Linked DNA regions of Homo sapiens. The protein of the gene in region 2 purifies or fractionates together with the protein of the main gene of each other region. This does not show direct contact. Each region holds a gene or a part of one and is shown on either strand. Other genes may lie near its edges.

What was found.
Region 1: the proteins of UTRN (region 2) and CTNNAL1 purify together in Homo sapiens (co-immunoprecipitation; 2 studies listed by BioGRID and IntAct, with this or other methods). This does not show direct contact.
Region 3: the proteins of UTRN (region 2) and ABCA1 purify together in Homo sapiens (co-immunoprecipitation; 2 studies listed by IntAct, with this or other methods). This does not show direct contact.
Region 4: the proteins of UTRN (region 2) and CFAP184 purify together in Homo sapiens (co-immunoprecipitation; one large-scale study listed by IntAct). This does not show direct contact.
Region 5: the proteins of UTRN (region 2) and MARK3 purify together in Homo sapiens (affinity purification with mass spectrometry; 2 studies listed by BioGRID and IntAct, with this or other methods). This does not show direct contact.
Region 6: the proteins of UTRN (region 2) and ZNF3 purify together in Homo sapiens (co-immunoprecipitation; one large-scale study listed by IntAct). This does not show direct contact.
Region 7: the proteins of UTRN (region 2) and CPNE2 purify together in Homo sapiens (co-immunoprecipitation; one large-scale study listed by IntAct). This does not show direct contact.

Annotation. Positions count from the first base shown.
Region 1 is NC_000009.12:108,944,370-108,947,926, forward strand, and holds part of CTNNAL1 (alpha-catulin), read right to left. Parts: intron 1-3,557. UniProt on the Homo sapiens protein: May modulate the Rho pathway signaling by providing a scaffold for the Lbc Rho guanine nucleotide exchange factor (ARHGEF1).
Region 2 is NC_000006.12:144,487,350-144,491,695, reverse strand, and holds part of UTRN (utrophin), read right to left. Parts: intron 4,149-4,346; coding exon 3,999-4,148; intron 3,024-3,998; coding exon 2,862-3,023; intron 1,626-2,861; coding exon 1,497-1,625; intron 768-1,496; coding exon 594-767; intron 1-593.
Region 3 is NC_000009.12:104,788,107-104,792,452, forward strand, and holds part of ABCA1 (phospholipid-transporting ATPase ABCA1), read right to left. Parts: intron 3,893-4,346; coding exon 3,830-3,892; intron 2,923-3,829; coding exon 2,816-2,922; intron 2,794-2,815; exon of another isoform or gene 462-2,793; coding exon 320-461; exon of another isoform or gene 1-319. UniProt on the Homo sapiens protein: Catalyzes the translocation of specific phospholipids from the cytoplasmic to the extracellular/lumenal leaflet of membrane coupled to the hydrolysis of ATP.
Region 4 is NC_000004.12:7,040,349-7,044,339, forward strand, and holds CFAP184 (cilia- and flagella-associated protein 184), read right to left. Parts: upstream 2,654-3,991; 5' UTR 2,591-2,653; coding exon 923-2,590; 3' UTR 501-922; downstream 1-500. Other genes in the region: TADA2B (transcriptional adapter 2-beta), read left to right, coding at 3,232-3,501. UniProt on the Homo sapiens protein: In complex with CFAP263, acts as a regulator of ciliary beating that connects radial spoke 3 (RS3) to the inner dynein arm (IDA) and the nexin-dynein regulatory complex (N-DRC).
Region 5 is NC_000014.9:103,468,406-103,472,751, forward strand, and holds part of MARK3 (MAP/microtubule affinity-regulating kinase 3), read left to right. Parts: intron 1-4,346. UniProt on the Homo sapiens protein: Serine/threonine-protein kinase. Involved in the specific phosphorylation of microtubule-associated proteins for MAP2 and MAP4. Phosphorylates the microtubule-associated protein MAPT/TAU. Phosphorylates CDC25C on 'Ser-216'.
Region 6 is NC_000007.14:100,078,607-100,083,447, reverse strand, and holds the start of ZNF3 (zinc finger protein 3), read left to right. Parts: upstream 1-1,724; 5' UTR 1,725-1,813; intron 1,814-3,791; 5' UTR 3,792-3,912; intron 3,913-4,841. UniProt on the Homo sapiens protein: Involved in cell differentiation and/or proliferation.
Region 7 is NC_000016.10:57,115,737-57,120,082, reverse strand, and holds part of CPNE2 (copine-2), read right to left. Parts: intron 2,588-4,346; coding exon 2,516-2,587; intron 889-2,515; coding exon 805-888; intron 523-804; coding exon 433-522; intron 1-432.

The DNA.
Region 1 (3,557 bases), on a different chromosome or scaffold from region 2:
ATGATGAATTTTCAAGCATGAGGTCAAAAGGGTTAGGACCTTCCCAATTCCATCTAGGCAAGACAAAATTTGTCACCCATACATATTCCATAACCAGACATTTGAGAGAACCAATCCAGGTGGTTGGTTTTTGTTGCCACTTTTTTTCAGATTAATTTTCACTATTCACCATGTACCATGAATTCTATAATTTAATGAGATGAACAGGATGATGGAGAAGTAGAGTGAAAAAGAAGGTTGTACAGGTAAGACAGAAGTATTTAGCATATTATGTTAAAATGGTTTGCAGACTATTTTAGAGTGAGATGCCAGGGGAGTAAAGGGAGGAAGGCTTAGTTTTAGGTGGCGTCAGTAATAATGGAGAGAACAGGGAAAATCTGAGAGTGGTTTGTGAATGAAAATAATAGGTCTTCATAATAAATTAAAGAATACTAAGAAGGAGGAGGCAATAATTCCAGGGTTAATTTTTACCCTCTATTCAAAAGGCTTAACACCTTGCTATCACTGGATAAAATGATCTCAAGGTCAAATCGTACTTTGCAACCTTCCCTTTAAAAGGGAAACCAGTAAGCTTTACATCTAGACTCCAACCAAATGAAATGATTCACTTCCCCAAGTGTTCCTTATCACTTCATGTTACCACTTTCTATTCTGCAAATTTTCTCTTTCCTTCTAGCCTGCAAACCCCTTGGGGACAAAATCCATGTCTGTCTCATACAGTATGATGGTTTTAAAACTACCTGAAAGCTGGTAACTCCCAGGTCTCTCTCTCCACTCCTGAACTATCCTGACATCAGTCTTGTACAGTCATCCCTCAGTATCCATGGGAGATTGGTTCCCAGACCTCCCCAAGGATACCAAAATCTGTAGATGCTTAAGTCCCTTAAATAAAACAGTGTAGTATTTGCATATAACCTACACACATCATCCCATAAACTTTAAATCATCTCATCTCTAAATTATAATATCTAAGTTAATGTAAATGCTAAGTAAATCGCAGTTATACTGTATTGTTTTCCCTCCCTTGGAACTCTAACCTTTTAAAATGTATTTTGTTTTTTTTTACTGTTGTTATATTTTATTGGTTTTCTTCCTTTTTTTTTTTTTTTTGAGACAGGGTCTCACTCTGTTGTCCAGAGTGAAGTGAAGTGGTGTGATCACAGCTCACTACAGCCTTGACCTCCCAGGCTCAAGCGATCCTCCTGCCTCAGCTGCCTGAGTAGCTAGGATTACAGGTGTGTGCCACCATGCCCCGCTAGTTTTTTTTTTTTTTGTTTTGTTTTTTTGTAGAGACAAGGTCTCACTATGTTGCCCCAGCTGGTCTCAAACTCCTGGACTCAAGTGATCCTCCCAGCTTGGTCTCCCAAAGTGCTAGGGTTACAGGAGTGAGCCATTGTGCCCAGACTGTTTTTACTGTTTTGAATATTTTCAATCCATAGTTGGTTGAATCTGCAGATGCAAAACCTGCAGATAGGGAGGGCCAAGTGTATATCCTATCTGACCTTTGTACTTAACATGTGCAAAACAAAATGCTCGATTTCCACCCTCTAAATCTAGTGTTCTCCCTCAGTGTTCCCTGTCTCAGAAAATGGCACTACCACTCACTCTGTTGGCCAAGCCAAAAACCTTACTTAAAACATAATAGGATCAGCTGGGCATAGTGGCTCAGGCCTGTAATCCCAGCACTTTGGGAGGCTGAGGCGGGCGAATCACAAGGTCAAGAGATCGAGACCATCCTGGCCAACATGGTGAAACCCTGTCTCTACTAAAAATACAAAAATTAGCTGGGCGTGGTAGCGCACACCTGTAGTCCCAGCTACTCGGGAGGCTGAGGCAGAAGAATCACTTGAACCCGGGAGGCGGAGGCTGTAGTGAGCCGAGATCGTGCCACTGCACTCCAGCCTGACAACAGAGCGAGACTAAGTCTCAAAAAAAAAAAAAAAAAAGTCCTTCCCATGGCCTACAGAGACATCATATTTTACCCCTTTCCTTCTGGCTCACTTCACTCCCATCAATAATTGCCTCCTTACTCTTCTGATACACCCAGCCCTACCCCTGCACCTCGGGGCTTTGCACTTGTTTTGGCTATCTAAAATCCTCTACCCACATTTATCCATCCAACTCTCACTTCATTACTGTCTCTATTCAAACACTGGCTCCTTAGAGAGGTCTTTTCTGACCACCCCTCTATCACCTCTGTATTCTAGTCGTACGTGATTTTATCTCCAAGTACTTACATATGTGCACTGAATGCTTAAATTCTTATTGTCTATATTCTGCCATTAGAACATAAGCTCTATGGGGGCAGGAGCTTTGCTTTGTTCACTTTTCTCCACAGAGCTCTGTTCTCCCAGATCTGACATATAGCACAAGTTCAATAAATATTTGTTGAATGAAGTATGCAATTTTATGTTCATCACAGTTTGGAGACAATTCATTGAACATTGATTTAATGACTAAGCTCACATAGGAAGAAGGTAAGTAGTGGATCTTTTGTAGTAAAACACCCCTACAGGGCGGTATGACAGAATGGACTTGGGCCAAACTGAAAAAAAAAATAAATTCAGAATTTCAACTATCTTAAGGGAAATAGCTCATTTATAGTCTGCTTTACAGAAAAATCCAGAAGACACATTTTCTATAATACTTCTGATTATGTTGACAATCATCCTCTTAAGCTGAAATCCCTTTCCCACAGAATGCCAAATAAAACTATATGAGTGATAAAGTGATAGAAATTTCTTTCTTTTTTTTTTTTTTTTGAGATGGAGTCTTGCTCTGTCACCCAGACTGGAGTGCAGTGGCGTGATCTCAGCTCACTGCAAGCTCCGCCTCCCGGGTTCACGCCACTCTCCTGCCTCAGCCTCCCAAGTAGCTGGGACTACAGGTGCCCGCCACCACACCCAGCGAATTTTGTGTATTTTTAGTGGAGACAGGGTTCCACCGTGTTAGCCAAGATGGTCTCGATCTCCTGACCTCGTGATCCACCCACCTTGGCCTCCCAAAGTGCTGGGATTACAGGCGTGAGCCACCGCGCCTGGCCTAAAGTGATAGAAATTTCAAATCTCAGATGTACATGGGAATGCCAAAGGAGACTATATGAGTGATAAAGTGACAGAAATTTCAAATTTACACACAAGAATGCTCTTGGTTCTAGAGAGGCAAACAGGCTAACATGGGGATCAGGGAAAACATAAAAGGAATTTTGCAACCCACTTGCCAATCTAAAGCCTCTAACTAGAGGGAGTAGAATTACAGATGGGCCTATGTGGAGTCCTGTTAAGACACATGGCACAAGAGTGGATGTTAGCATATCTGTCTCTCCTTTAATGCCCTAAATCATCATGAATACTGAAGGAAAGAAGGAAACTAAGATGTACTTAATACCCTCTAATAGTCTTAAGCATTTTAACAGATACTCTCTCATGTGTTATCTCATTTAATCAATATATTTTATCCAATTCAATAATGAAGAGGCCAAAAATCTTTCTAGAACTCTGGATTTGCATCTGCTTACAGGATATTTTCACCTACTTAGGTAAACCTAAAGCTTATTA
Region 2 (4,346 bases):
TGTCCTAAAGAGTCTCATCTTAAGTTCTGTGATTCTCAAGCAGAACACTAATTCTAAGATTGTGTCCCCTTAGCCACATTATTTTTAAATTTCTATTCAATTGAATTATAAAGTTCAAGACTAAAAAAGTAATAAGGCCTTATATATCATTTCTTCTTTCCTATCTTAAGGTTTAAATTTCTATTGAAATTTTTATTTTCCTAGAAAATGGAATTTTTACGATATCCATTCTAAGTATGGTTCTTCTAGCTAATTCAAATTTATCCTTGAAAACTTTGCTTATTAGTCACACTCTGCTGAAGCCCTCCTAACTTCACATGGTGATTAAGCTGTATTTCTTTTGTTTTGGTTTTTGTCATCATGTTATATACATGTCTATTCTAGTTTCCTTAGCTATCTCTCTTATCTCTTCTAATTTCTTTGGAGGGAAAGACCACACTTCTTATTTTTTAACACGTTTTCCATCATCAATCCTTATGTTTAGCACACTGTAGACTAGTGATCACTGGACACACTAGGCATGTACTTGCTAGACCAAGCCATAACAGCTGCTGAAAAAGCCACTGGATGTGCCAATCACCCAAAAGCCTCACCATACACTTGTCCAGGTGCGTCTGTATGACGTCAGGGTCTACGTCCTTCACATCCAGAACGTGAAGTTCTGCTTTCACGCCATCCAGCACACGCTTGCAGTCCAGCATGCGCTGCTCGAAGTTAGCTGGCTTCTGGAAAAGCTGGAACTTTGTGGACACCTCTCGGAGTTTCCTCTGTTTGCAGAAATGAAAATATGCAATTCCCATCAGGATGATTATCTCTCTCATCATGAGCATAACAGATACTACTAAAAATTTGTACCATAAAGTACCAAAAGAAAAAAATTCAGAAATATGACCCAAAATAAAAAACTCCTAATGAATCTCAGTGAGGGTACCCGATCACCTAAGTGAACTGCATAGCCCAGTGTCAAAAATTACAACACTCAGTGTCTCAATCTCAGAAGTAATAGATTTGGATAAGAAATTTAGATAAAGCTGACCTCACTGGAATTAAAACTTCATGTTCAAAAAGATAGTTCAGGAACCTAGAACTCAAAATGCCCTTCATCACAAGTTCAGAGTGAAAGTCAATGTCATATCAACCATGAAAGAACTAAATGATGCTGCATCCAATTCATGCTCGGCCTGCCCACAGCATCAGCCACACGATACTGACAGAGGCTCTGCATTAAAGAAAAAGTGTATATAAAGCTAACTTCTAAATCTGGCTCACTCTCTTGTTTCTCATCTCAGCTATCAAAATCAGATTTCATATTTTTCCACACATGCAACAATTTGTTTCTGCTGCCCTAGGATGCAACCTTCAACACATCATCACTCCCATCCCATGGTTTACATCACAAAGAATACAAACGGTGCCCAAGTAATCAATTCTTTCTCTTTTTTGAAGAAAATTCCCAACAAGTTGAAAAGTAAAAGGAAGCTCCTGGCCTTCTTTACCTGTAGCACATCCATCTGACTTCCTCCTCTGGCAGTCCTACTCTCTGGGGAGGTCAGGGGCTGAGAACGCATATTTCTTCTCAACTCCTCTAGGGTTAGCTCATGGGCTGAGATCTCTGCTTGGATTTTCTAAAAAGAGATTGGAAAGGGGAGAGGATGTCCTTTTTTTTTTACTTAAGTATAAAAAGAGACAATACAAAAGTTCTATATCGTTGTGTAATACATGATATCGTATTTTACATAATGTTGACCTCCACAGAAGCTTTAATAAGTTTTTGTAGGCCAGGTGCGGTGGCTTATGCCTGTAATCCCAACACTTTGGGAGGCCGAGGCGGGTGGATCACGACATCAGGAGTTCAAGACCAGCCTGGCCAAGATGGTGAAACCCCATCTCTACTAAAAATACAAAAATTAGCTGGGCACGGTGGCGGGCGCCTATAATCCCAGCTACTCGGGAGGCTGAGGCAGGAGAATTGCTTGAACCTGTGGGGCAGAGTTTGCAGTGAGCCGAGATCGCGCCACTGCACTCTAGCCTGGGCAACAGAGTGAGAATCCGTCTAAAAAATAATAATAATACGTTTTTGTATAATAATAATAATATGGCCCACTGCATGGTATGACTATTGTACATGACGCACCTGCTAAGGGCTTTGCATTTGTCGTTTCTAATGTTCACAACTTATTTATAAGGAAGGAATTGTCCCAACTTCACAGCTAAGAAAACTACAATTTAAAATATACAGGACTTTTCAGCCAGGCACAGTGGCTCACGCCTGTAATCCCAGCATTTTGGGAGGCCGAGGAAGGTGGATCACCTGAAGTCAGGAGTTTGAGACTAGCCTGGACAATATGGCAAAACCCCGTCTCTACTAAAAATACAAAAATTATTGGGAGGCCGAGGCAGGCAGATCACTTGAAGTCAGGAGTTCAAGACCAGCCTGGCCAACATGGCGAAACCCCGTCTCTACTAAAACTACAAAAAATTAGCCGGGCGTGGTGGCGCGTGCTTGTAGTCCCAGTTATTCGGGAGGCTGAGGCAGGAGAGTCACTTGAACCCAGGAGGCGGAGGTTGCAGTGAGCCAAGATCGTGCCACTGCACTCCAGCCTGGGTGACATAGTGGGATTCTGTCTCAAATAAATAAATAAAATAAAATAAAATAAAATAAAATAAACTATATAAGACTTTTGCCAGAGTCTCACATAGAAAGCAAGAGAACTCCAAAACCCAAATGCTGCCCTGTAAGTAAGGTCAATCTTTCCCATTGACTCTCGGTTTTGGAGAGCAGGAGGGGTTCTCTTATAGTTGAGGAGGCAATTACAAAAGCTCTCTTTACAGCTCAAAAGCCCTCAAATGCACGGCAATACCTGAGCTTCCTGTGGAACTTGGAAAGCATCTATCCTGTCAGTCAGGTATGTGGTGAGCTGTTTGTCCAGCTCCCCCAAGCTCTCTTGCAAGACTTGAAGCATCTGGTCAGTTTCCCGCAGCACCTGGAGTTGCTTTTCCAAAGAAATCTGCTTGCTCTCTGCCTGCACAAAGGAGAAATTGAATCATTAGTTGCCCAACACAAATATAAATAGCAGAATATATATATTCTGGCCACTAAGAAAAGACCATAAAAGCTTTCATCCAAGACTTTAGCTTTCTTTATAAATAAATAATAATTACTAATGATAACAGTGAAAATGTCCCACTAGGATCTTATGTACCATGCAGCTGAATTACTAATTATTACTTCTTTCTATATATAATGTTGAAATACAAAAATGTAAAGGTTTCCCATAAGATGCATTAAACAGAAGATAAAAATGTGTTATTTATTATAATTTTAAAGCATTTTTAGGAATCAGCAATGTCTGCCAATTAAGAATATAAAACATAAGAAAAATGTCTATCAATACACAAACATCAGAGTCTCTTTTTTTCCAAAGCCTAAAACAAATTCTATAGGTGTACATACATATCAAACTACTATTTACAGCACTTTTGGGTTAAGCTTGATGTTATTCATGGGCTGAACATCAACAGTTATTATTTAATATGTGTTTGGAAGCACCTAATATTCATACCCAACCTTCCTATAAAAGAAATGTTCTTTCTCTAATTTGTGATACGAATATGTATGTTACAACCTGGATATGAACTAAGAGACTATGGCTTTCACAGCAGCTTATGTGAAATATCATGGCCCTAATATTTACTAGGATAGTATGAGTTGTTGTTCTTATATACAGCTATCATATGATCCTTAATGAAAATTAAATGTTTGTAAGTAGAAGTAATCTCAAAAATAATTTTTTTAATCATCCAGTTCTGTCTTAGAGTGTTAGATCTATTCTTCCTTTCTGAATATTTCAATACCCTCAATGCCCCTGTTAGCATTGGTTACCAACTTTAACCAACATTAAAGATTTTTCCAACATTAAAGCTCTATGATATGGAGCTTAGGGCCAGCTCCACTTCATCAATACCTAATCAACACCCATGTATGTCCCAACTCTTACCAGGTGACTTAGATCTTCATATCGGCTGTTGAAAGCCTCCAGTTTCTCACTGATTATATCATCCAGGATCCCCCCATCAATCAGAGTCTGGCCAAGCTCTCGAATCTGGGTGCGATTATCTGCCGGGTGGCGCAGAACAGATTCCAGAGACTGGAATGGAGATGGGAAAAAAAAATAATAATGCATTTACTAAGGCAAAAGGTATCAAGGATCCCCAAAATGTCTATTTGTTAAACAAGTAATTATATTTTCTAAAAATCTACCTAAGTAACAGGACCAAAAGTTAAGTAAATTACTAATTCACAAAAATATCCATCATGGGATTAAAAAATGCATAAAATTGAGAAA
Region 3 (4,346 bases), on a different chromosome or scaffold from region 2:
GCTGTCCTACACATACATGTATGAAAGTTCTTTCACTGAGTAGGACTAGATTCTATAATCATAACCTGACAACTGGTGAGGAGCCAAAGCAGGGAGAAGGGACTCGTGTGGTGGGAGCAGCACTCCCTCTCTGCCCACCCAGCCCTGCCCCACCACCGTTACAGGTTTCCACCCTGAAAGCAGATACAAAGAACCAGCATTTTGTGCTGCTGCATTCATGAGGAAAAACAGCCTGAAGTCAATGCGTGTGGAAAAGCCATAAGGTATATATTGTCAGGATGCCAAAGGAGACAGGCTGGCTTTCAGGTGCCCACAGTACCTTGCCAACTTCTTTCTCTGGGACTCCTCTCAAAAGGGCAAAGAACTCCACGTGTTCTCTCCCAGTCAACAGCTCTGTGATGGCATCAAACTGAGGGCAGTAGCCCATGTTCTGATGTACTTCATGGATGTTTGATAAGATACTGCAAAGGACAAGAAAACTACTTAGATTTTAAGCAGGTAGAGATACTCTGGTTAGACAATCTGGCCTAATGTTCCTGTAAAGTATGCTTCTCCATTACAAAGATACCAATACATCTGCTGCTACTTGAAAGCACAGCCTTTCTGCCCCCAGGATGCTAGCTCTTCCTGGCAGGCAGGGTTCCTGCCTCTACCCTCCCCAGTCCTTGCACCTCCCTGGCTCTCTGAACACTTCAGTCTGCAGGTGCAGTCCCATTTCAGAATTTCTGAGGTCATGCCAACCACTGCACATTCTTTACCAACAATCTCAGTCACACTACCCCAGGGCTTTAACGCTAAGGCCCCATCCTAGACTTCACTCATATGCACCATTCACATGCACCAAATGAGAAGGCCCAGAAATTTTGAGTGTGAGCAACACAGAACCTAGAGACACAATTTATGTGGTGGTGGGGTGGCTTTGGGGTTCTATGAAGCCAGTCAAGTGAAGAATCACATGTGAGAGAAGTTCAGTGTTCACGTTCCAGACTGATGACTGCACCTCAGCCACAGCGGCATTGCCATGAACTTGGCCTTCTGGCAGCATTCATTCCTCTCTGTGTATCTAATTAGCACCCCCAGGGTCAGCCTTTTTCAGAATTAGGATTGAGGCACACGTGGACACCGTGCCAGGCCCTCACAGCTATACCAACCAAATCAGTTCTTACAACCAGTCCCTGTGACAAACCTTACTATGGGCTGGTTATTACTGCCACTGCTATATGCGTCAGGAGCTTGGTACTAGGAGCAAGCCTAGGAAAGCAGTTGTGCAGCGCTAGGCCTGCTATTCCCAGAATGTCTGTTCTCTTAGGATTCCTTTACATTGCTACTGCAAAAATGTAAGAGACAGGAGAGGAGATCATGAATACATTAATTTCCTTGCTCTTTTCAATTTTATTGGCTATCCCCCTGTCCAGTGTGTTCAAATTGTGAGTCATTGTTCATTAGTGGTTTGGGAAATAAATTTAGTGGGTCATGACCAGCACTTTTTTAATGACGCAGTATAAGGTAGAATAAGAAATAGCAGAGTGCACTACAATTAGTAACAGTAGGTACTGCTTTATGAAACTTTAGGTTATACATGTGTCTACATGTCTGTGTGTACATACTAGGTTGAGATATAAAATGTATTTCCCACAACGGTCATGGTCAAAAAACTCTGAAAGCCACTGCCTTGTACTATCTCTCCACATAATAAGTCCAGAGAAGCCGGGCGCAGTGGCTCATGCCTGTAATCCCAGAACTTTGGGAGGCTGAGGCAGGTGGATCACCTGAGGTCAGGAGCTCGAGACCAGTCTGGCCAACATGGTGAAACCCCATCTCTACTGAAAATACAAAAAAATTAGGCAGGCATTGTGGCGGGCACCTGTAATCTCAGCTACTCAGGAGGCTGAGGCAGGAGAATCGCTTGAACCTGGGAGGCGGAGGTTGCAGTGAGCCAAGGTCGCGCCATTGCTCTCCAGCCTGGGCAGTAAGAGTGAAACTCCGTCTCAAAAAAAAAAAAGCCCAGAGAAGCCCCACATATTTAAAGTACTTAGAGTAACATTATCTAAGAAGCCTATAAAATGTAGCTGTATTCCCAAAGATCAGATTGCTTTGTGACCTGTGCAGTCTCAGAAAATGGCCTAACGGTGGCTCAGTCAATTTGTATGCTCTTTAGAGAGGGCAATTTACTTTGTAGGAATTGTTCCTGAGGAAATAATAAAAGATGTATACAGGGACATATTTACATAGTGAAAAATGGAAACTAATGTGTCCAACATTTATAAGGAATTTATTAAATAAATTATAGGTACATGTACATAGGGGGATTTTATGTAGCAATGTAAAATTCCACATCTTAGGAAATGTAACCCACTGGGAAATATTCATAATACACTCATTAACAATAAAAACTAATTTTAAATTCTACATACAGTATGATCTCAATTGTATGGCACATTTATATGTGTATATAAGACAGATGTGGGGTGATGGAAAAGTTCTAAAACTGGATTGTGGTGATGGTTGCAAAACTCTCAATTTACCAAAAATCACTAAATTATACTCTTAAAAAACAAGCAAATTATATTGTATGTAAATTATACCTGAATAAAGCTGTTAAAAGAAGAGAATGAGACTGAAAGGAAATGTAAATTGTGATTATCTCTAGATATTGAAATCATGGATGATTTTATGTGCTTCTTTACCCTTTACTATATTTCAACATTTTTATGAACTCTAAAAATACCACTGTAATCAAAAATAACAACCTATTTCTTTAAATAAATTAAAAACAAAGTCTTTGCAGCAAAATACAAGCCACTTCTTTTCTCACCTATTTTTGTTAAGGAAAGCATCTCCTCTGGTAACAGTGGTATCTCCTGTTAACATCTTGAAAGTTGATGATTTTCCAGCCCCATTAACTCCCAGGAGCCCAAAGCACTGAAAAGGAAAGATTAAGTTGTATAAGCAAACTCTAAAAACATGAATATAAATGCCCCTAACACGTAACTACCTCAAACCTTCAATTCTTAAATATCAGAGAAGAATCAAATATTTTCTTGGTTTTAACACATCGTATAGATATTTAAATATGTATTTCATAATGGGACCATTTTAAGTGTGGCTGTATTTATAAATATTATTTGAGTTGTCAAGTTGAGGCCAAAGTTAATGTGTGAAAAACAGTAATGAAAGCCAGCTAGCCAAATTGCACCACCTACTCTGGCAAAAGGGCATAAAAGAACACAAACGGAAACCAGAAAGGAGAAAATCTATTTTTAAAAAACTATTTGAATGTCATCACCATCCCAAATGGATCACAAAAGCATGTTTTAGATGTGCGTGCTTTTTCTGTTTTTGTTGTTGACATGAGTCTCACTCTGTCACCAGGCTGGAGTGCAGCAGCGCAATCTGGGCAACCTCCCCCTCCTAGGTTCAAGCAATTCTCCTGCCTCAGCCTCCCGAGTAGCTGGGACTACAGGAATGCACTACTATGCCCAGCTAATTTTTGTATTTATAGTAGAGATGGGGTTTCACCATGTTGGCCAGGATGGTCTCAATCTCCTGACCTCGTGATCCGCCCACCTCGGCCTCCCAAAGTGCTGGGATTACAGGAGTGAATCACTGCGCCCAGCCCCATGCTTTTTCTTAAATTGTATTGGATTCTCTGAAATCATTCTCTTGACATACAGGGTCCCTCTCTTCTCGATGACTAATTGCTCCATCCTGGCATAAATACAGAAGCCTTTAAAATCCACTTTTACCTCTTAACGAGCATCGTTGCTTGATTGGGTAGAGATAGTCTGAACTAATAGGGACAAACGCAATATAGACAAAGTGTCTTTACCTCACCAGGAGGAATGCCCACGCAAATCCTGTCAACAGCAGGCTTCCGCTTCCTTCTATATATCTGCAACAAACAAAATGTAAACATTCATAAGCCTCAGTGACTCACAGCTCTCCCAAGCAACTGTGGAAGGCAGGACTATAAACCACATACACTGCAACATAAGACTTGTCAATAACCCTAAGCCATAGGCATATTTGATGTGCCAAGAGCCTTGGTCTGCGTTTGTGGCGACTGGCTTCTGAATGATTCTGAAGCTCAAAATAAAAGTGAACTTACTTTTTAACCTGTCTTTTTAGAACCGTATCATTCATTATTATCTACATAATTTTTCATCTATTCAACATATATATGTATTGCAGGTATTTTAAAAATTAAATTCCACAGAGTAGAAATTTGTAATAAAAATATTGCAAATACTGTACAGATTCCAAAAAAGTAAAATTTGGAGATGCTGGCATCTAGAGGGCTGATATAGACCCTCTTGAACACAGGCAATATATCAGCTTTTTGGACT
Region 4 (3,991 bases), on a different chromosome or scaffold from region 2:
AGTAGACTGAACTCCCTTTCATTGAAAAAGGGACGATGAAGAAACATCAGCTCCTCTCCTGTTTATCATCTCTCCTGTTTCCTGGATATTTTTATTGCCCCCTAAGCTCGTGCTAGTCACATATAAAAAAAATTTTTTTTTGAGACAAGAGTCTCGCTCTGTCGCCCAGGCTGGAGTGCAGTGGTGCGATCTCAGCTCACTGCAAGCTCTGCCTCCAGGGTTCACACCATTCTCCTGCCCCAGCCTCCCGAGTAGCTGGGACTACAGGCGCCCGCCACCAGGTCTGGCTAATTTTTTGTATTTTTAGTAGAGATGGGGTTTCACCGTGTTAGCCAGGATGGTCTCGATCTCCTGACCTCACGATCTGCCCACCTCGGCCTCCCAAAATGCTGGGATTATAGAGGTGAGCCACCTAGCCCGGCCCAAAATCACTTAAATTTAAGATTAATCTAAGGGGATTAGTGAGCTTCTAACTGAAACAGTGTCTCGGGACTACATAATTTAATAAATCCAAAGAATTTAATAATTAGCTTAATGCACAGGGTTTTTTTGTACCTTGCCCATTCGCTGAACTTTTAAACCCTCCTACATATGAAAGAGGAACAGTACTCTTTAGTATTACATCACTGAAATTATAGAATTGCTCAGACTTGAGACTTTTGACAGTTTTTCATGAGAAGTCAGTTACATTAAATCACCCTTTGTTTGCTTTTCTGGACCTATTTTTGCTCAATCCCAGATAAAACTCCTAACCCAGGTTTGGGCTCAGCACTGATTTGGAAGCTAAAACGTTTTGAGATAAATACAAAATAGAGTCCCGTCCCAAATGACACAGGCCTTTTTAATAGCAACGAAGGTAAAATAAAGCAGGACAGCACGTCCTGAGGATGAAGTGTTTTGCAGACTCTTCTCATCGATCTGGTCAAGAAGGGAGAAAGGCTTTGGCCTCCCTGATCTTCTGCCTCACGCCTCTGCAGGACAAAGTGAGGCTAGCGTGGTGGCGCTTCAGGGATTCCAGGCGCCGGTGAAGCAGTTCGGTCTTGTCCACCTTTTCTTCCAAGTCCCGAAGAAGTGAGTCCTTGCCTAGAAGGCCGCACTTCTGATTCAGTCTGATGTTGTCCGTCCGCAGCCCCTCTCGGGCTTGCTTCGTCTTGGTCAGGATGTCTCTTCCTAGGGCGGCCTGGGCCTCGATTTCTGCCAGCTGTGTCTTTTTGCACGCGTTCTCCATGTCCATGAAGTGCAGCTTTTCCTTCACGTGGGTTATTACTTGCACACTGTTGGTCACCTTGCTGCGAAGTTTTAAAAGTTCCTCATTTCGTTCCTCAATTTTCTCATTGAAGGTTTGGTTCTCAATCTTCAGCTGTTCAAAGTCAATAAGAAGCAGACCCTGGGTCAGGTCCTCCTGGGTCCTCATCCTGGTTTCAAAATGCACCAGGCTCTGCTTCAGCTGAATGTTCTCCAGCCGCACGGCGCTCATCTCCTTCTCCTTTTTATCCTCCAACGCCTGGATCTGCTCCACCTCTCGCAGAGCAGCCTGGCGCCCGCCCCTCATCCGACAGCTGCCCATGGCCTGCATCACCACCTGCTTCTTGAGTGCCTGGAAGCGTCGCCACTCCTTCTCCACCCTGGTGAGCTTCTCCTGGCACTGCCGCTTCAACTGGCCCAGCTCCTGGTGGTACCACTGCAGGTCGTCTGCCTGCTGCTTCTTCAGCTCCTCCAGCATGCCCAGATGGCGCAGGTACGCTTGCTCTTTCTCGGGGGCCTCGGCCTCTGCGCCCCGGTCAGCCACCTCAGCGGCCTCCAGGCCCTTCTTTCTGCGCAGCGCCTCGAAGATCTTGTGCTGCAGGTATAGGTTGTAGCGCTGGGAGCGGTTCCGCTCCACCAGCAGGGAACGGTACTGGTCCAGGAGGTCGCTGCGCAGCTGCTGCTCCTGCAGCTTCTGGACCTCCTCGGACCACTCGAGGTCCTCAAACTCGTCCCTTCCATAGAGGCGCTTCCCCTCTTCCTGGCTTTTGGCCGGGCGTCCTTCCCCATCCCTCTCCTTGCTCTCCGCGCCGTCTCTCTGCGTCTCCTCCTTGTCCTCTTCCTCCCCCTCCACCCGCTCTGTCTCGGCCTCCGGGGCTGCAGCAGCCTCTTCCTCATCGATCCTGGTCAGCGGCAGAGAGGCCTGGAACCTGACTTCCTTCCCCTCTGCCGCCTGCTCCAGTTCCTCCGCCCCCGCCTCCGCCTCTAGTTCCTCGGGCCCGGCTCCGGGCTCCGGCTGGGCGGGCTCCTCAGCCCCAACCTCGGCCGGCTCTTCGGGCTCGGGCTGGGGCTCGGCCGGCCTCCCCGGCTCTCCAGGCCCCTCCTCGCCCGCAGCCTCGGCTGCCGTTAGCCCTTTCGGGGCCTCGGCCTGCTCGTCCGCGGCGGTGCCTCCCTGCGAAGCCGCTTGCTCCTCCTCCTCCTCCTCCGGCTCCGACTCCAGCTCCCCGGGTTCGGGAGAGGTCGGAGGGCCAGAGCTGGCCTTGATCTTGGACGGCCGCGCGGCCAGGCTTTCCCCGTCTCCGCCTTCCCCGCCGGGGTCCTTAGTGTGCTCAGAGCTGACGTCCATCTCCTCCCGGCTCGGCCAGCGCAGCGGACCCCGGCAGGACGCTGTTAGGTTTCCCGGGGCAACAGAAGGCGCGCGCGCTGGGCCCGGCGATTGGCCAGGCGACAGGCCGTCGTCCAGCGCCTTCTCCCCGCTGCCCGGCGAGAGCAAGCCAATGGGAGGCCGCGAGCTGACGATAGGCGAGATTGATTGGAAGCGGCCGTGGGCTCTCGCCGCGAGGGGCGTGGCGCCCCCGCCGGGCTTTCTGCCTGCCCATTTCCCACCGCCGGGCCTGGGGCGGGGCGTTCAGGAGGCTCTGGGAAAGGCGGCGGTGGCCGGCGCGGGGGGCGCGCAGGCGCAGAGCGGCGGGCCGGGCGTCCGCAAGGTGGCGCCCGCGGGGCGCCTGCGCGATGCGGCGGGGCGACAGCTGCGGCGGCGGTGGCGGCCGGGCCGGGCCGGACGGCGCCTGCGTACTGAGGGGGGACGCGGCCCGGCTGGCTGGCTCTGGCGGCGGCTGGGCTGGGGCCGCGGTGGCGGCAGCCGCGGCGGCGGGCGGCGGTTGCTCGTGCGCGGCGGCGGCGGCGGGTCCCGCGGGCGGCGGGGCGCTGACGGCCGGGGGCGCGGCGGCTGCGGCGGGCCGGGCGGCGGGCGGCGAGCGGGGGAAGATGGCGGAGCTGGGGAAGAAGTACTGCGTGTACTGCCTGGCCGAGGTGAGCCCGCTGCGCTTCCGCTGCACCGAGTGCCAGGACATCGAGCTGTGCCCCGAGTGCTTCTCGGCCGGCGCCGAGATCGGCCACCACCGCCGCTACCACGGCTACCAGCTGGTGGACGGCGGGCGCTTCACGCTCTGGGGGCCCGAGGCCGAGGGCGGCTGGACCAGTCGCGAGGAGCAGCTGCTGCTGGACGCCATCGAGCAGTTCGGCTTCGGAAACTGGGTGAGCGGCGCGACGGGGGCCGGGTCCCGGCTAGGGCACTGGAAGGCCCGCGCCTCTCCTGTAATCGGGCGCGCAGGCAGCGCTGGACCTGCTCGCTCGCTCCGCACCCCAGAAGGCCCCGGAGGTGGGGAGGGCGACGCTGCCGGTTTATAGTCGGGCACCTGTCGGAACCTATGCTCTGAGAGGCTGTGACGCGCCCAAGGTCACACAGCCGAGACGGGGCCGAGTGGGGCTTTGAACGCTGGCTTCTGACAGCAGAGCCATTTCCCTCACCTTCAGGGACGCCTTCACAGGCGTTTGCGGAGTGCAGACGTTGGGCAAGACTCGGTGCCTTACCTGAGTTCGTGGAGACAGGCAGGCCCACAGACTCGACAGAAAGCGGTGGGAGCACCAGGGAAGGAGAGCGGTGGGCGCCCTGCGGCTTGTCTCGGGGTCTCTGGGGCGGCCCCGTTTGCTTTCTGTCACTGTATGCATGTGCCCTGTGTGGTCC
Region 5 (4,346 bases), on a different chromosome or scaffold from region 2:
CCTCCACCTCCCAGGTTCAAGCGATTCTCCTGCCTCAGCCTCCTGAATAGCTGGGACTACAGGTGTGTACCACCATGCCTGGCTAAGTTTTGTATTTTTAGTAGAGACGGGGTTTCACCACATTTGGCCAGGCTGGTCTTCAGCTCCTGGCCTTAAGTGATCCACCTGCCTTGGCCTCCCAGAGCGCTGGAATTACAGGCATGAGCCACCGTGCCTGGCCAGCATTTTTTCTTAGTGTTCCTGCAGGTGCTGCCATGATTACATATTACTTCAAGGCTCTTATCTTCTTTATACATGCAGTAGATTTTTGCTGGATAAAGCTTAGTTGAGTGGAAACCTTACCATTTGCCCTTCTAGAACCTCTGCTTTAATCTGTAGTTTTCCTTTTTTTTTTTTTTTTTAAATGGAGATGGGGGTCTCGCTATGTTGCCCAAGCTGGTCTCAAACTCCCAAGTTCAAACTATTCTCTCACCACAGCGTTCTAAAGTGCTAGGATTACAGACGTGAGCCACCATGCCCAGCGCTAGAACTGGGCGCTGTACCGAACTGAATAGAACTGCTAGTCTGTAGTTCTATTCACTCTCTTCACCTCTGCATTGGATTTACTTTGTAGAGTAGCACTGTCCAGTAGAACTTTCTGAGATGATTACAGTTTTGTGTATCTGTGCTGTCCAGTCAAGAAGCTACTGGCCACTTGTGGCTATCAAGTACTTGAACTGAGGAAATGATTTTTACCTTTTTTATTTCTATTTATTTTTTATTATTTTTATTTATTTATTTATTTATTTATTTTTCAGATGGAATCTGGCTCTGTCGCCCAGGCTGGAATGCAGTGGCATGATCTTGGCTCACTGCAACCTCCACCTCCCAGGTCCCAGCAGTTCTCCTGCCTCAGCCTCCTGAGTAGCTGGGATTACAGGCATGCACAACCACACCCGGCTAATTTTTGTATTTTTAATAGAGACAGGGTTTCACCATATTGGCTAGGCTGGTCTTGAACTTGGGAGCTCAAGCAATCCACTCACCTTGGCCTCCAAAAGTGATGGGATTACAGGTGTGAGCCACCGCGCCTGGCCTTATTTATTTGTTTATTTTTTGAGATGGAATTTTGCTCTTGTTACCCAGGCTGGAGTGCAATGGCATGATCTCCGCTCACTGCAACCTCAGCCTCCGAAGTAGCTGGGACTATAGGCACACACCACCACACCTGGCCAATATTGTATTTTTAGTAGAGACGGGATTTCACCATGTTGGCCAGGCTGGTCTAGAACTCCTGACCTCAGGTGATCCACCCACCTTGGCCTCCCAAAGTGCTGGATTACACGTGTGAGTCTGTAATTGGCCTGGCTGATTTTTACCCTTTTAAAATTTTCCTGGCCGGACATGGTGGCTCATGCCTGTAATTCCAGCACCTTGGGAGGCCGAGGCGTGTGGATCACTAGGTCAGGAGTTCGAGACTAGCCTGACCAACGTGGTGAAACCCCATCTCTACTAAAAATAAAAAAATTACCTGGGCATGGTGGTGTGTGCCTGTAATTCCAGCTACTCAGGAGGCTGAGGTAGGAGAATCGCTTGAACCTGGGAGGCAGAGGTTGCAGTGAGCCAAGATCGTGTGACTGCACTCCAGCCTAGTGACAGAGTGAGAGTCCATCTCAAAAAAAAAAAAAAAAATTTGTACTTAAGTGTAATATATAGCCAGTTGTGGCCAGTAACTCTCATAATAGACAGGACAGCCCTGGAGAATATATGGAACCTCAGTTTTGCCTTAATTGGTTTAAATGTTGTACTGTGTCATTCTCATCCATACTCTTGCTGTTAGTGTGGTTAAGCCACTCTCCCTTTTAAACTTCACCTAGAAGCCAGTCCTTTATGAGACATAAGACTCCCAGTGGGTAGGCTTACCAGGCTCTACAGTTGCTCTGCCTTCAAGGCAGCCTGTGTGTCAGAGTCCTGAGGCTAGCGTGTGTGTTTACTTGCCCATAACTATAAATGTTAACATTGCAGATATTTCCTTTAATTCTACTATTCCAGGATTCAGGAACTAAATCTATTTTTTTTTTTTTTTTTGAGATGGAGTTTCACTCTTGTCACCCAGGCTGGAGTGCAATAGCGCGATCTCGGCTCACTGCAACCTCCGCCTCCTGGGTTCTAGCAATTCTCCTGCCTCAGCCTCCCGAGTAGCTGGGACTACAGGCATGCATCACCATGCCCAGCTAATTTTTTTATTTTTAGTAGAGACGGGGTTTCACCACATTTGGCCAGGCTGGTCCCGAACTCCTGAACTCAGGTGATCCATCCACCTCAGCCTCCCAAAGTGCTCGGATTACAGGCATGAGTCACTGCGCTCGGCCTCATTTTATTTCTCTTCTCTGGACATTTTCCATCTTAATACTTTCATCTTGAGATTTGACACTTAGGACTGCACAGGGCATTTTAGGTGTGGACAGCTTTGATTTTGTACTAAAAATGATTACACTTGGCTTGATTTCCATTTCTCTTCCTTCTGTTGCTTGCCTTTCTACATGGTTTAGACTGAAGCAACAGTGTACTAATATCACTAGTAAACCATCTACAGTGCCTGCTATTCTAGGGTGTAACTGAGAGCTCAGAACTCATTCTCACATCAGGATTTGTGCTCCTAGCATTTGTAGGTGACGTGTTGATCTAGGTCTGCCTTTTTTGTGTTCATGTTAGTCACTAACAAGGGGGGTTTCTAGTGCTTATGGACCACATGGCAATTAAATGCCCATATATTGCCCTGAAACCATCTGGTTTAACTTGTCCCTCAATCCTAGAAGAAACCTGACAATGGGATTTTCACATTTCTCTAAGGAATATGTTAGTAAGTTATTCCTTAAGCACATAGATTCCATCCAGATTATTAGTGCCTTTTTCCCCCCAGCTCAATTTTAGAGATAAAAAGAGCTTTAGACATGGTATTGTACACTCACCAAACCTCTGTTTTATCCCTAAATAGACCAAGAGAGATTACCAAGTCTCCCAAGGTTACATAGTAAATGAGAAACACCTGGGGCAGAGCTCAGGCCTGCTGGTCCAAGCCCTGTGTTTTTTCTCCACTGAAGCACCTCATTGGAGTAGCTTTTTCATAATCCTCATCTTTCTTGGAATTTCTGAAGGCAGGCAAGCCTGTATAGCCGGGCTAACTTTCACCTCATCCTCCTGCCTCGTCTCACCTCTCCCTTCCCTTTTCCTTGCCTGTGGATGCTGACCTCTGCATGGGTGCCTGCTTCTCTAAAGCTACGATGTAATCTGTAGCTGTCCTTCCTCGTTTGAGACCCACATGTGAACACCCCATATGTGTGCACTTTTTCTGCGAATGGTGATCATCTGATTTTCAAGGGGTTAGCTTGTTTTTTAAAAAATGAAAAAAAAAATCACTGTTTACTAATCAATGAGTGGTATTGGGGCAATTTGGTAGTTCTCAGAAAAAAAATTAATTTGGATCAATTTCTCACATCTTATACAAGGATGAATTCTAATTGGAGTTAAGATACAAATATAGGGCTGGGCGCAGTGGCTCATGCCTGTAATCCCAGCACTTTGGGAGTCCGAGGCAGGTGGATCACGAGGTCAGGAGATCGAGACCATCCTGGCTAACATGGTGAAACCCTGTCTCTACTAAAAAATAGAAAAAATTAGCCAGGCGTGGTGGTGGGCACCTATAGTCCCAGCTACTCAGGAGGCTGAGGCAGGAGAATGGATGAACCCGGGAGGCGGAGCTTGCAGTGAGCCGAGATCGAGCCACTGCACTCCAGCCTGGGCGACAGAGCGAGACTCCGTCTCAAAAAAAAAAAAAAAAAAGATGTAAATAAAACTCCAGAAATATTGAAAGAAACCTTGGGATTATTTGCTTTGTAACTTGGACTGGTGAAGGTGTTTCTGTCACCCCAAACACCAAACCCATGAAATAAAAGACTTACAAATTTGATTACATAAAAATGAAATTTCTGGCCGGTCGCATAATCCCAGCACTTTGGGAGGCCGAGGTGGGCGGATCACGAGGTCAGGAGATCGAGAACATCCTGGCTAACACGGTGAAACCCTGTGTCTACTAAAAATACAAAAACAAAATCAGCTGAGCTTGGTGTCAAGTGCCTGTAGTCCTAGCTGCTCAGGAGGCTGAGGCAGGAGAATGGCGTGAACCTGGGAGGTGGAGCTTGCAGTGAGCCAAGATCATGCCACTGCACTCCAGCCTGGGCCAACAGAGCGAGGCTCCATCTCAAAAAAAAAAAAAAAAAAAATGAAATTTCTGTGTGACACATCCATACCATGGACTACTACTCACAATAAAAAGGAACAGGCTGGGCGCGGTGGCTCACGCCTGT
Region 6 (4,841 bases), on a different chromosome or scaffold from region 2:
GAGGCCGGGCGCGGTGGCTCACACCTGTAACCCCAGCACTTTGGGAGATTGAGGCGGCAGATCATTTGAGGTAAGGAGTTCGAGACAAGCCTGACCAACATGGTGAAACCTTGTCTCTACTAAAAATACACACAAATTAGCCGGGTATGGTATCACACGCCTGTAGTCCCAGCTACTTGGGAGGCTGAGGCACGAGAATCAGCCTGGGTGACAAGAGTGAGACTCCCTCTCAACAACAACAACAACAAAAAAAAAAAAAAAAAAAGGAAAAAGAATAAAAGAAACACATGTCAAAGGAAATCCAGCATAGAGTAATTTATTGCAAAAGGAAAATAGTATTTTGAAAGTTAAGTGCAGAGTAGACAGTACACCCTGGGAGAGAGAGAGATAGAGAGAGAGTTAGTTCAGGGAGGGCTGCTCCTAAGGATGAAACAGCAAAGGCTGGCTCTAGAGAGACCCCCTTTGTAAGGGGTCTTACACGATTATTCATAAGGGGGTGGGAGAAGTGTTACTAGTAAGTATGTTCTGGGTGGTCCTCTAGGTGCACATGCGCAGTGGGTGTACAGGCTTGTTCATACATTGCATGTTTCATTAGCATCTTAAATTTCCACCCAGGGGCGTGTTTTTTACCAAGATAATGAGCAAAGGGTCAGTTTGAGGACAGGTGAAATCAAAATGCGCATGCTCCCTACAGGGGAAAGTCCCTACTGGAGAGCGCTCAGCTTGAATGAGCTCAATTACAATGCGAATGCTGGGGCTTACTGTGTTGACTGCGGTCACCACGGTTGCCGCGTCTCCAGGACACGGTCACTTCCTTGACTATCCCCGCCTCGCTTCCACCTGTAGCTTCCTTTTTTTTTTTTTTGAGACAGTCTCACTCTGTGGCCAGCCTGGAGTACAGTGGTGCGATGTCGGCTCACTGCAACCTCCGCCTCCTGGGTTCAAGCGATTCTCCTGTCTCAGCCTCCAGAGTAGCTGGGATTACAGGCGTCTGCCACCACGCCCGGGTAATTTTTTTGTATTTTTAGTCGAGACGGGGTTTCGCCATGTTGGCCAGGCTGGTCTCGAACTCCTGACCTCAGGTGATCCGCCCGCCTCGGCCTCCTAAAGTGCTGGGATTACAGGCGTGAGCCTCCGCGCCCGGCCGGTAAGCTTCCTCTTCTCTGCTCTCATCACCTGTACACGGGTTTTTTCCTCATGTCAACTCTGTGATGGACTGGAATGTTTTCTTCAGATGTGGGTAATTTAAAGGGGGCATTTTTACAAGAAACAAAAAAAACTCGGTTTGTTCGGAGGCAAGTTTTAAATCAGGGTTCATTTTTTAATATTGATGAATCCTTCAATAATTGTATGTTTACTGCTGCCCTTCGCGAGCCAGCCTGAGAAGCGCGGGCTCGACATCCCCGCGCGCCCCCGCCGCCCGCCCCCAAGGCCGGCGACGCTGGAGCACATGTCCTGAGGCCCAGGACCGTGGTCGGCCGCTTTCGCACATTCGTGGCCAGCAGAGGGCGCAGCCGGCCAGCCCCCGCAGCGAAAGATCCCCGAGTGCCGCGTCAGCGATCGCGCTCCTTGCCCTCGCCGCCTGCCAGCCGCCCTGAGTCAGCAAACCACAGAGAGGCGAGGACCTCCCATTTTCCTAGACAGAACAAGTGGGCGTTGGGGGTACGGGTGAGTGGCAAGAACAACCGACCCGGAAGCGAAACGAGGGGGAACTTCCGTTCTTTGTTCTGTCCCCGGTGTGTGGGTCTGTGACAGGGTCCAACAGGGCCTGGTCCGTGTCCGGTCCCCCAAATCTGTCGTCCCTGCCCCCAGGGTGAGTCCACGCGTCCCCGGGTCTCGCGGTGAGACGGAGGCTGTGGTCGCCGGGGAAGGGGGTGGTGTCTGTGCCACTGCGGCCCGCAGGGTCCCCCGGCCGGCCCGGAGCAGGGTTCGGGGAGGCGCCCCTCCGTCCCCTGCAGCCCGTCCTCTACTCCGCTTCCCCAGGGATCCCCCTAGCCTAGCGGGATCCTGCGTAGGGGTTAGTAATGGGGCTCCGGTTCTGGTTTTGTGACTTTAACGGCGACCCAGCTGGAGCGTTTAAAAGTTTCAGCAGAGCGGTAGGGGCGCCTCTCTCTTGAAAGCAGCTAATGACAGCGACCCTAACTTGGTATTTCTCCCAGACGTTTTTATTTGATGTTAACACAGTTATTCGCGCCCGTGGCAGGAGAGGAAGTTTATTTTTACGCAGCTGGGTCCAAGGATCAGAGAAATTCTGCTAAGCGTACGCAGTTAGCACGAGGGCTGGGAGTGGGTGCAGACGCCGATTCCAGGGGTAATCCTGCTGGAGCCCAGTGCATCGCGTGATACACCTGGCTCAGGCTCCGTTTTCAGTTGTATTAGATTCCTGGTTTGATCCTCTCTCCGGAAGTGGGATTGAATCCACATCGGTGTTTACACTCTGAAGGGCTTTTGTAAACTCCAGGAGAAGATAGCAGAGTGATGAACCTGAAACCGATGGGCTAATTAGAGGAACGAGCGTATTATTTTCTCCAGAAAAGACATCTGTGGAGAGTGGGCATCATTTGATTATACGTGTTTGATGGACAGTCGGGTGGAAGGAGAAGATTCTGTTATTGAAGCTCTTTTTTTAAAAAAATTAATTTTTATTTATTTTTGAGACTGTCTCTGGAGTGCAGTGGCGCGATCTCGGCTCACTGCAACCTCCGCCTCCCGGTTCAAGCGCTTCTCCTGCTTCAGCCTCCCGAGTGGTTGGGACTACAGGCGCCCGCCACCACCTCCGGCGAATTTTTTGTATTTTTAGTAGAGACGGGGTTCCGCCCTTTTGGCCAGGCTGGTCTGCAACTCCTGGCCTCAAGTGATCCACCTGCCTTGGCCTCCCAAAGTGTTGGGATTACAGGCGTTAGCCACCGCGCCCGGCCTTTTTTTTTTTTTTCCTTTTAAAATGTTTGTGTGTGTATTAAGGTCTTGCTCTGTTGCCCCCGGCTGGAGTGCCGTGGTGCCATCATGGCTCACCATAGCCTGGAACTCCTGGGCTCAAGTAATCCTCCCACCTCAGCCTCCTAAAGTGCTGGGGTTACAGGCGTGAGCCACTGCAGGTCGCCAGTCATTGAATTTCTGTGATGCACTAGGTCTCTGTGCGGTGAAGGTCCAAGGAGATAGATTTTCAGCGAATCACCTGAAGACTTCTAATGGCTCAGCTGTGCAATGTGGATCCCCTGCTGAAGTAGTTCGGAGCACAGTGTCTAGCAAGTTAGCTGACAGAACGTTAGAACTTTCTTACCCTGGGTGGAGGTGGACCTGAGAACCTACCATTCCCTTTCATCTCTCCACGGGTGCAACGCAAATACTAGTTGTGGTGGTGGTCTTAATTGGTATTTATTAGCATATAATAAGTATTCTCTTTTTTTTCCTTTTCTTTAAATGTCTTGATTAGAAATGAAGTTTAGGCTGGACTCGGTGGCTCATGCCTGTAATCCCAGCACTTTGGGAGGCTGAGGTGGGAGAATCACTTGAGGCCAGGAGATTGAGACCAGCCTGAGCAACACAGTGAGGCTGCATTTCTACAAAAAGAATTTTAAAAAACTCAGCCAGATGTGGCAGTGCACACCTTTAGTCCCAGCTCCTTGGGAGGCTGAGCTGGGAGGATCACTTGAACTTAGGAGTTTGAGTCTGGAGTGAGCTCAAACTCACTGCACTCCAGCCTGAGCAGCAGAGTCAGACCCTGTCTCATGGAAAAAAAAAGACGTTTGCATGAATATTTTAAATTCCTTTTTTTCCCCTTAATCACACAGCATTGGCATCAACAAAAGTCAGAATTCCCGGGAACTTGAACAGAGGCTGCTAAATTCCCAGTAATTGCTCCTTTGGCCTTCTAGGGACTGACTTCAAAGAAGGAAGGAAAGAATCAGGCAGGTAAAGCTTTCCGTGTCTTGTTCTTACTGCCAGGCCATCTATCTCGGTCCCCACGGGCAGCACCAGGGAGTGAGGCTGGCAACAGAGCAGGGGAAGGGCCCTGTCTGGACCTGAAGCCATGGGGGCACAATGGAGAGTTTTCTTTCTGTGAGAAACGCTGTTTACTGATCTGGACACTGGGTGCTTGTTCTCAACAATATGCCTTTGAGTTCCAGCTTCACTTAACCCAGCTGTGAGAGGGAGCTGTTGCCTTTTTCTCTGGAGTCAGACCTTTGACCTGCCTTTCTAGGAGTTTGTACTGAAAGCTGACTTGTTGAGGGCGTCAGCTCATAAATAGCTCCGGAGATTGTAAAGGTGGTTGATAAGAGGATATGATGGTTGGCTCTGAGACACCATTGAAGGGACCCTGCTAGGAGGGCGATGGTGGCAAGAAGGTGTGTCACCTTGATTGCCAGTGGCCTGGCTTGTGCCTGAGTCAGTGCTTTCCACTGTGTAAGGGCTCTGGTATTGGACATTCTATATCCCCTGCTACCCGAAGACCAGAGTTGCCCAAACTTGCGACTGACTTTCAAACAGGACCCCTCTTCCTTTGTTCTTTTTTTTTCTTTTATTCTCTCAAACATTCTCTTATCCATTCCTCTTCCTTTGATGCCTTATGTGAGTGTAACAGTCTGTAATTATGAAGCACATACTTTTTGCATTCCCGATTTTTTTACTCCTTGCAGTTGTGAGTGGCAATAGAGTTAGCCCTCAGCAAACATTTGCTATGTGAGCAAATGAGTAAAGAGATAATGAGAGGTAGATCAAATCCAGGGTTGGTTGGTTTGTTTTGTTTTGTTTTGTTTTGTTTGAGACAGAGTCTCACTGTTGCCCAGGCTGGAGTACAATGGTGCGATCTTGGGTCACTGCCACCTCTGCCTCCCGGGTTC
Region 7 (4,346 bases), on a different chromosome or scaffold from region 2:
CAGGCTGGTCTTGAACTCCTGACCTCCAGTGACCCACCTGCCTCAGCCTCCCAAAGTGCTGGGATTACAGGCATGAGACACTGCACTCAGCCAGAGGACTGAGAGCTTTTAGAGAGACTGGTAATCACTGTCCTCATCATGCCAAATTTGATAATTTCCAAGGTGTTTCCCTAGCTAGCAGCTCTGCAGCCCTCTGGGGAGGGCAAGAGAGTTTTAGAGAGGGGCTCAAAGGTGGGGGCCCTGCCCGGGTACTTCAGGGCATCAGATAGATCCAGGATGAGGACCCAGTCTCCAGTCCTCCCTCCTCCAAAGATGGGGGTTCGTTCCACTTGTATGAGAAAGAGCTTTCTACAAGGCATCCCCGGGAGCCTCAGGTAGACTGGGAGGCTGGAGCTGGCAAGGTGGGGAGCAGGGTCCCCAGAGCCCCCTCACCTGGATGGGCTTCTCCATGTCCCCATCACACAGGGACACCAAGGGCACTGTGAATGGCTTCCACACAGGGTCCAGTGTGTACTTGATCACCTGTGGGACAGAGAGGGATGCTGTGAGCTCAGGCCCTGGGCAGCAGTGCTCTGGGGTTGGGTCAGCCCAATGGGGACAGGGTGACAAAATGCAGACCCACAGCCACACTTCCAGAGACAGAAGTGAGCGTCCCTGTGGCTGGGAGGAAGCATATCCCTCAGGTGCCACTGTGGGTTTTCCTGCACACTGAGCGGCTGTGACCGCACCTCCCTTTTTCAGAGCTGTGGAGGGGCTGGACTGCAGGCCCACTGCTTAGAGATCCCTGGGCCCCCACGTACCCACCTCAGTCCTGTGGACCAGCATCCACTTGCCATCGTCTCCTGGCTTATAAAACTCCAGAAAGGGGTCTGACTTCCCAAAGAGGTCCTGGGAGAAGTGGGAGGATGCGGGTGAGAGAGGTACAGCCCTGCTAGGTTCAGGCAGATGGGGGTGTGGCCCTGCTGCCTCCCCAGCCGGGTGTCAGGATAGGAGCTGTGGGCAGAGCCAGCCTGGCCCCCTCCCCTCAGACTCTGCAAGGCTCAGCAAGAGGCCCAGGGCAGCTGCAGCCCCCTGGGATCAACCAGGTCCCCCAGCAGAAACCCCCCACCCTGAGGCTGTCAGAGCTTGTGCTCAGAGACCCTCCAAGACTCAGAGCCTGTGTGAGTCAGAACTCCGGCATTTTAGATGGGCCAGGACTTCAAGAGGGTGACTATTCCCAAGGTAGGGTGAGGCTCCCAGCAGGGTGTCATTTCAGTTTATTTTATTGGGAATGTGAAAAACTGAAACTATCCTGCACATGACATAAGGAATATCATGGCCTTTAAAAAATCATTTAAGGTTTAAAAAGTGCCACTTTTTGTATGTGACTCACTCTATCTATCTATCTATCTATCCATCCATCCATCCATCCATCCATCCATCCATCCATCCATCTATGGGGTCTCACTATATTGCCCAGGCTGGTCTCAAAATCCTGGCCTCAAGTGATCCTCCTGCTTCAGCTTCCCAAGTAGCTGGGATTACAGGTGTGAGCCGCTGCACCTGGCAACTGTTACTTTAAAGAGGTTATATTCAAGTTAGGGAGACAGAAAATAAGTAAAGAAGGTATGGGCCAGGCATGGTGGCTCAAGCCTGTAATCCCAGCACTTTGGGAGGCCGAGGTAGGCGGATCACAAGGTCAGGAGATCGAGACCATCCTGGCTATCATAGTGAAACCCCGTCTCTACTAAAAGTACAAAAAAAAAAAAAATTAGCTGGGCGTGGTGGCAGGCGCCTGTAGTCCCAGCTACTCGGGAGGCTGAGGCAGGAGAATGGCATGAACTCAGGAGGCGGAGCTTGCAGTGAGCTGAGATGACACCACTGTACTCCAGCCTGGGCAACAGAGCAGGACTCTGTCTCAAAAAAAAAAAAAAAAGAAAGAAAGTATGCTAGACAGTAATAGTGTTAAGGAGACGAGAAGGAGGGGGTGGGAAATTGAAGACCAATTTCAGGGAAGGCCTCGTTGAGGAGGTGATGTGGGAGCAAAGGCTTGATGGAGGTGAGAGGGTGCCGTGAGAAAATTCAAGGAAGAGAGCATCCCAGGCAGAGGGAACAGCAAGTGCAAAGCTCCTGAGGGAGGAGAGTGCCTCGTTTAATTCACGGACAAGGGGCTAGGTTTGGCTGAAGCAGAGTGAGGTGCGGGGAGGAGGGGTGAGGTCGGAGAGTCGGGGCACTGGGGACACATCAGGCAGGGCCCCATTGGGTAAGGACCTTGGAATGTACTTACACTAAGTGAGATGGGGATGCCCCAATGAGCAGGTTTCCAGGTGTGTTTTGAATACCCCTAAGGGATGGAACACTCACTACCTCAGAGGTGAAGGAGTCCTAATCTGGAGTGGCCAGGAGGGCCCCGTGCTGGACCAGTCCCTAGAATGTGATGGAGGTGGTGGCCCGAGGTCCCGGAATGAGGCCACACAGCCCTGGGGCTGGTGGGGGCTACTGTTCCCAATGGGAGCCCTTCCTCTGCCCGCCTTACCTTCTTGTCCAGCCTCCTGCCCGCCAGGCTTAGTGTGATGACGCGGTTGTCGGACAGCTCCTGGGCAGCGATCTGTAAGGCCGGGACATGAGGGGCTCCTCAGACTCCCCCAGCCTCCTGCCAGGCAGGATGGCACAGGGTGCCCCAGGAGCAATCCTCCAGGGCTAGGAGGGGGAAGGGAAGGGCAGTTCCAGGTGACCTTGGACAAATCTCTTGTCTTCCCCACACCTCAGTTTCCATCTTCTGGAAAATGCGGAAAATAACCCATCTGGAGATGAGGAGTCAGGAAGCGGATCTACGCAAATCCGCAGGGCCCATGGGGTGGTGGGCAGAGATGAAGCAAGGACCAGACACCGGGGGTGGTCTTGAGTCCCGGGGAGAGGTTCTGGCCCAGAGAGCAGCATGACCGGCCTTCTCCTGCCCCTGCGGCAGCCACAGAGAGCACAGCTTCCTCAGAACACCAAGGTGTCAGCATCACAGCCACTTCATTGTACAGCTAGGGAAACTGAGGCCCAGGGGAGAAACTGAGTCCCATCAGTTCACATTGGTCATCTGTCCTCCATGCATTCCCCATCAGCTATGGTTCCCTGACCCCAGCCCAGCCAGTGATGGCCTAGCTGGGCGACTTCGAGACTGCTGAGGCCCCCTGTAGGCCTCTCTCCCTCCCCTGCTGCCCACAGCAACACAAGTGGGCTGGGGCCTTTCGCTGGGGCCTCCTCTCCTCTCCTGCCTCTAGGATGGCCTCACCCAGCGCAAGGCATCTGGCCCTCTGGACCCACAGACAGAGGCCAGCCATGTTGCCCGTTCTCCCCTGCCGTCCTCCCACTGGGACTTGCTCAACAACCCTATAGGGTAGGTCCTATTATCACCCCCATTTCCCAGGGGACGGGATGGAGGCCTAGAGTGGAACTGCCAGAAATGCTGGGGTGATGGCATACCCGGGTGAGTGGGGTCTGTCTGAGATGGCTTCTAGGTGGAAGCTGCCTTGTGAAGGCATTCATTCATTCATTCATTCAGAGATGGGGTTTCACTCTCTTGCCCAGGCTGGAGGGCAGTAGCATGATCATAACCCACTGCAGCCTCAAACTCCTGGCCTTAAGGGATCCTCCTGCCTTAGCCTTCCAAGGAGTAGTGCTACAGGTGCAAGCCATGCACCTGGCCTGGGAAGGCATTTAGATGGGCCAGTTAGGAACCAAGAGGTTGGGGGAGGTTGTTTGGGAGGTGGTGATCCGTGGGGGCAGGAACAGAGTAAGAGCCTGAGGTATGTTCAGGATATGCTAAGAATTCAGTTTGCTTTGAACGCAGGGCATTTAAGTGAAGGAGATTAAAAAAACACCAAGGCAGGAGAGCCAGGCAGGGTCTGAGGGGTCCTTCACAGCCTTGAACCGAAGGGTTGGTCAGGCAGTGGGGAGCCATGTGAGGTTCCAGGACAGGGGAGTAACACACGGGAACACACAAAGGCATGGCTTCTCCCTCCAGCCTGGCCGGCTTCCCAGGCATCGCGTGGGCTCAGAAGCCAGCCAGACAACCAGGGGACGATCTCGCTAGCTCAGCTGCCCCAGGGAACTTCCTCTCTGGGTCTCAGGGGTGGCCCTGGCTTCTGGGAGTCTTTGAAGACCAAGGAGCTCATCCGGGCGAAGGGCCTGTGCATCTCCAGCGGAATTACTGCGCATCGCGGGAGTCGTTGCGCATTGCAGGAATCATTGCGCGTCGCAGCCACAAGCAGGGCACTGATGGGCAGGGCACTTCTGAACGACCCCCAGGGGAGGGCAGGCAGGGGCCAGTGCAGGGAGGGGGCTGCTGGCAGGGCTCTGGAGGCCTCCCCAGCTTG